Linked DNA regions of Homo sapiens: region 2 is linked to region 1. Evidence: fine-mapped expression QTL. Tissue or cell type: whole blood. Region 1 holds a variant in brackets; the other region holds the start of a gene. All regions are shown on one strand. Distances are from middle to middle.

Evidence for each region. PIP is the estimated chance that this variant, and not a neighbour inherited with it, causes the effect.
Region 2: HEY1 starts here. The variant in region 1 is fine-mapped to the expression of HEY1 in whole blood (INTERVAL, PIP above 0.99). The same link has a PIP of 0.9 or more in neutrophils.

The regions. Positions count from the first base shown.
Region 1 is chr8:79,829,484-79,832,243 of GRCh38, forward strand. The region is part of intron 2 of LOC101927040 (a long non-coding RNA gene); the gene reads right to left. Among named protein-coding and RNA genes, the nearest start is that of LINC01607, 63 kb to the left of the region's middle. The variant T/A (reference allele first, on the strand shown) is at 1,184.
Region 2 is chr8:79,766,188-79,768,947 of GRCh38, forward strand. HEY1 (hes related family bHLH transcription factor with YRPW motif 1) reads right to left here and starts at 1,580. Exons shown (of 5, transcript NM_012258.4): 1 at 1,388-1,580; 2 at 1,032-1,107; 3 at 822-905; 4 at 464-545. The coding sequence starts at 1,476. It overlaps LINC01607 (long intergenic non-protein coding RNA 1607), which reads left to right and starts at 1,955. Exons shown (of 4, transcript NR_125410.1): 1 at 1,955-2,031. RefSeq lists an enhancer at 1,103-1,152 and silencers at 1,603-2,082, 2,123-2,482, 2,583-2,752.

The DNA of each region.
Region 1 (2,760 bases):
CTCTTGTGTCTTGGATCTTAGAACACCAAATGTACAGTGAAATGAGGTCAGAAGACCTGTGTGCCAGTCCTGACTCCTGACCACTAAGTTATGATGTAGTTGGCACAAGTCATTAAGCTTCGGGGACTTTATTACATCTCTAAAATGGAGGTAATGAGACCTCCCCTGCCCCCCTCTGGGGGGTTATATATAGGAAAATAGGAAAACACTTTGAAAAGTTAAAAATGCTGCTATACAGTCAAAAGTTATTATTCTTACAATAATAAAGTTCATTATGAGTATTCTGTAAGTACATTTTTAAATTTAATTTTTTTACATAGAAACAGGTTCTCACTATGTTGCCCAAGCTGGTCTCAACCTCCTGAGCTCAAGCGATCCTCCTGCCTTGGCCTCCCAAATAGCTGGGATTACAGGCATGATCCATGATGCCCAGCCTGTAAGCAGTTTATTATCAGTATTCACATAAGAGCCAGCAGCATAGGATTTGTTAAGTAAGGAAAAAGCTCGGACACCATCTAGTCCAATCAGTTTTAAATGCATCCATTTAAAATGTAAATGACAAAGCCTCATCCTCCAGAAATATTGATTCCATAGGTATAGATTAGCCCAGAAATCTGGATTTTAGATCACCACCTTGGGATATTCAGAGATAGAATCCAACAACCTGACTTTGAGCAACGTTGTTTTGCAAAACGAGGACATTTCTCATTCTCCTACTCCCTGGCCATATCCTTCCTCCCACTGGGGCTGGGTGTGAGAATAGAGCACATTACTTTCACATCTCTTCATTAATATTTCAGAATCTACAATGTGAAGGACTGGGAAGAAACAAAGCAGAATCGGGGATTATGTTGATGGGTTTGGTTTCCCTTTAATGATGAGAAAAAATGCATGTCTGCTCTGAGCAGATGATAAATTGATCCAGAAAATGTTGCACAAGTGTTCTTTGCTAAGCTTCAGGGTCAAAGTCAACAATATAAAAGAAAATATACCTCCGTTTAGTTGAAAAGGACTTACGTTCAAGGCATTGCACAACAGGTCTGGTGTGGGTTACACTCTGTCAAATGGCCCTGTTCATTTATTCAGCTTTCCACAGATCTTTGCCAAAGAGGACAATGAGAGAAAGAGACAGATTTAGCTGTTGTGGTTGCAGTTTGTTTTTGCACCTGGTGGGTTTTTTTTT[T/A]AAATGACAATAGTTTGAGAATATCACGACAACATTTTTAAAGATAATGAAATCATTTGTATGTGAAGTTGGGATAATGAAATGACAAGCCTCTCATAAAAGGAATCTCCTTTTAGTAACCATTGCCTATACTTGCATTAAGTGAAAAAAAAAAAAAAAATGAACCGAGGAAGAACTTTCTAGAAAGATAGATAGCTCCTAGAAATCTGGGAGCTTTTCATCATTATTAAACTCATTTGTCTTGCAACTTTCTATTCCTAAAATGAGCAAAAAATTTAACAAAAGCAGTCTCTGGAAAACCAAAACAGAGAACTCATAACATATTCCATTTACTCATAGGAAACTCTCAGGTACCTCCTCAAACCTCTCTACACACAGTTCTAATGCACATCTGCATGCACACACGTGTAAGTGTGTGTCTATATTGGTCTTCTATGCTCACAGTAAACACTGAACATCAGAAAATTAGGGTAGAAGAATTTCTGGAAATAGGTGCATTGATAACCAGAGTGATTGGTCAATGGACTGATGAAAAGCAGGGAGACGAGAGTATATTTAAAAGTTTTCAAAATAACTTCAGAATCTGAAAATTTGGGACCCTTTATGTGCCCTATTGCATTGCAGCAGAGTAACAAAATCTTGTTCACTGTCATGATCCCAAGGCATCAAGAAAAAAATTAAATTTCATCCATTTTCTCTGTTTAAGAAGGTACTAAACAATGTATTTTGGAAAGATTTTCATCAAAAATGTTTAAAATTAAAAAGTCCATGCTGAAAGAGACAAATCCTTATGTTTCCAGAACTCTCATTTACTCAAAAATCTTTTTTCCCAAAGTTTCTGAATAAGCAAAGTTTGTCTAAGGAGCAAAGATTGGGAGAGAGGAGGAGTGGGAGGAGGAACAGCTGTTCTGAATTAAGAAGCATGTTAATGACAGCACAGGAGTCAGAAAGATGCTCGGGTTCGCCTGCTGGTCTAAGAGGCAATGTATTAAACTGTCTAATAAAAACAATTGTTCTAGGCCTGTGATAATGGACATGAGGAGAAAGATTTGGAAGACAGCATTGACGAATGAAGTATCTGTGGCATAAAACCACTCTCTCCTGCGCCCTCAGTCCAAGGCTGTTATCAGAAGTAGGTGACACTGCACAGGCACGGGGTGACGAGGGGCGTGCTGGAAATGGCCCAGTCTAACTCACTCACATTTTGGCTTCACAGGGAGCATTTTCTGAGAGGGTCGATCACCTGAACTGCAAATGGGCCAGGGCAGGAACAAGAGGGGAGAAAAGGGGATGCTTTCAACAGGAAGATTAATGATAAACACGAAATAGCATGATGACTGTGAAGGTTTCAGGCACCGGAGATGCTAAGAAAAAAGAAAACAGAAAGTCTTTTTATCTTTACAGTGGTTCCTATAAAGGGGTCAGCAGGTCGTGGTAGAAACTATCAGTTAATTATCTCTAGGTCAGCAGCATGCCTCTAGTCAGAGAGCCCAGCCCCCTTGCAAGGAGACCCTGAGCTCACTGATGCCGACCAGGAAAGGCCAGGGGTGGGGGGAGGAAACTTCTGAGCAGGAGAC
Region 2 (2,760 bases), 63 kb before region 1:
GACATACACACAGACCTTGGTCTCCCGTTAGGTTTCCTTTACTTAACCAGAATACATTTCTTTCCTCAAGAGGCATGTGGCAGCACCTTTTTTTTAAAATCCCGTATACCAAAAATAAGACCACATATTGTTTTTAAATGCTTTTTCTCAAAATAGCAATGGACAAATGTGAAAGCTACCTGATCTGAATCAGGGCTGTCACAACTTTTGAAGACCTCACAAATAATAGGTATTTTTCCAAAAGATGCACTAGCTCAATCCGCAGAGAGCTGGGGTGGTGAATTCACTGGAGAAGATTCTATGTGCATTCGAAAATGTACTGACAGGGAACTGCACACACCACACACCGTTCTCTCCCCACCCCCAAAGAAAAATCAGGCAGCTACTGCACCAATCCTGGCCTTCAGCCGCTGCTCACTCTTTGCCAACCATTCAGAGCCCCCACTAGGTCTAGGAGATGTACCTTTCCCTCCTGCCGTATGCAGCATTTTCAGGTGATCCACGGTCATCTGCAGGATCTCGGCTTTTTCTAGCTTAGCAGATCCCTAAAGATGAGAATGGCAAAAGATTGATTTGGCACAAGTTCCTTTGGGGAACAATTTAAAATATGCAAACATATATACAAAGATACATGCTTTGTAAATCGTAAAGCATGGACTAAAGCAAAATCAGTTGTCTTCACAAAATACGCTGGTATCTGTGTACGAATTCATCTAGGCACAAGCAACACAGCTATTTTCCAAGGCGGATGAGATTAATGAGGGGAAGATTCAGAAGGTGCAGATAGCTATGCTGAGAGCTTTACCTACTTGCTCCATTACCTGCTTCTCAAAAGCACTGGGTACCAGCCTTCTCAGCTCAGACAAACTGTTATTGATCCGGTCTCGTCGGCGCTTCTCAATTATCTGCAGAAGGCAAGCAAAACAAAGGAAGGCATTACCATTACGACTGTAAATTTCAAAGACAAAAAAAAAGGTGGTTATTTCCGTTAATCAATAACAAAAATAAAAGGAGAGTGTAAAGAGACTCACTCCTCTCCGTCTTTTTCTGGCCAAAATCTGGGAAGATGTAGTTGGGGACATGGAACCTAGAGCCGAACTCAAGTTTCTGAAAAGAGAAAAAGAACAAACAAAAACTGAAATCGCCGTTAAACGAGGAGAGGTGATCTGAGAGGTCGCCCCCACACCCTCCCCGCACTCAGACTTTTTTTGCCACTTGGGCTGGAAGGCACCTAGGGGTTCCCTGGCCGCAGGCTGCCGCCAGCCTGCGACGCGCGGAGGTCAGCGCAGGGCACCGGCGCGCCAAGGGTCCTAGCCCGCTGTCACCGCGGCAGGCCTGCGCTCGCCTCCCGCTCTGGCTCGGCTCCGCTCCGCCGCCGCCAGCTCACCCATTCTCGTCCGCACTCTCCTTCTCCACCTCGATGGTCTCGTCCAGCTCGCTGTCCGAGGAGCTGTACTCGGGGTGAGCTCGCTTCATGCTGGCTCCCTGGGGGTTCCTGGGGAGGGTCGGCGCGGCGGGCAGGGAGGAGTTAACTACAGCGGCGCCTCTCCGCTCTCGGCTGCTTGCGTTCCGCACACACTGATCCCGCTCACGCTTTGCCTCTGGTTAAAACTCAACCATCCTTTCCCACGCTGAGCCCCTTCCCAGGGCCCTGGGGAGGGCGGGGGAGTGGGGAAGGCGGGCGAGGGGGCGGAGAGGCGGGGCGGCAACTCCAGGGCAACAGCCGCCCCCCGGCCAATCCGGTTTCTCGCGCCGCTGATTGGCAGCCGCTCCGGGGAGGGGCGGGAGCGAGGCCGAGGGCTCTAGCGGACCGCGCCCCCGCCCTCCGCGCCCGCCCCTGCCCGGCGGCGGTGCGTCGGCTCCGCGGGGGCTCTGTCCAGCCTGCACTCAGGGGAAGGAGGAGGCGCGGGCGGCGGGGAGGCGCGGGAGGCCGGGCCGGGACACAAGCCCGCCGGCGGCCGCGGCTCCTCCCCGCCCCGCGCGCCCCGATTGGCCTGGCCGCGCGCCAGGGCCGAGCCTGCAGCGCCTCCGGTGAGCCGCACGCGCCGCGGGCCGTGGGAAAGTGCCGGCGCCGCGGCCGCCAGCCAATCCGGGCGGCCGGCGACGGCGACGGCGGCGGCCGCGCTGGCGGCGGCGGCGGCGGCGCTGGGCGTCCGCATGAATGGAGAAGAATGGGCAGGCGGGGAGCCGGGCCGCGCGAGGGCGCGCCGGCGGGGGCTGGGCGGCCGCCGGCCGGGCCCCCAGTGTGAACCTGTAATCGGAGCCTGGGCGCCGGCCGGCCTCGGAAGCCGCCGCCTAGCGCCACCGTAAATCTCGCCCGCGTGGCCGCCAGTGCCCGGCGGCTGGAGGCGCGCGCTGTTAGTGGGGCCGTGCCGGGTGCACCTGGCCGGGCTGCGCGCCGGCGGCTCCGCGGAACCCGCAGGGAGCCGGGAGAGGGGGCGCCGGGCGCGTCCACAGTGGCCACCAGCCCAGGGGCCGGTCACATGGAGGAGCAAGCTGTGGGCTCAGGGGACGCTCTTTTTGATTTCTGGGACCGAGGCCGCACATGCAGCCAGACTCGTTTCCGCAGGGGCTTCCCAGCCGCGGAATGGAATGAATACCCCTGTGCATCTCATTTCCGGGGAAGGGGAGCACTTGTTTTTTCGGCCGCCTTGGGGAAAAAAAAACCCAACGGTCCCTGGGAATAATCATTATGCTGGGATTTTTTTGTTGTTCCCCCGCTGCCCCCCCCCCCGCCCCCTCCCCCCGGCGGCCAGATCC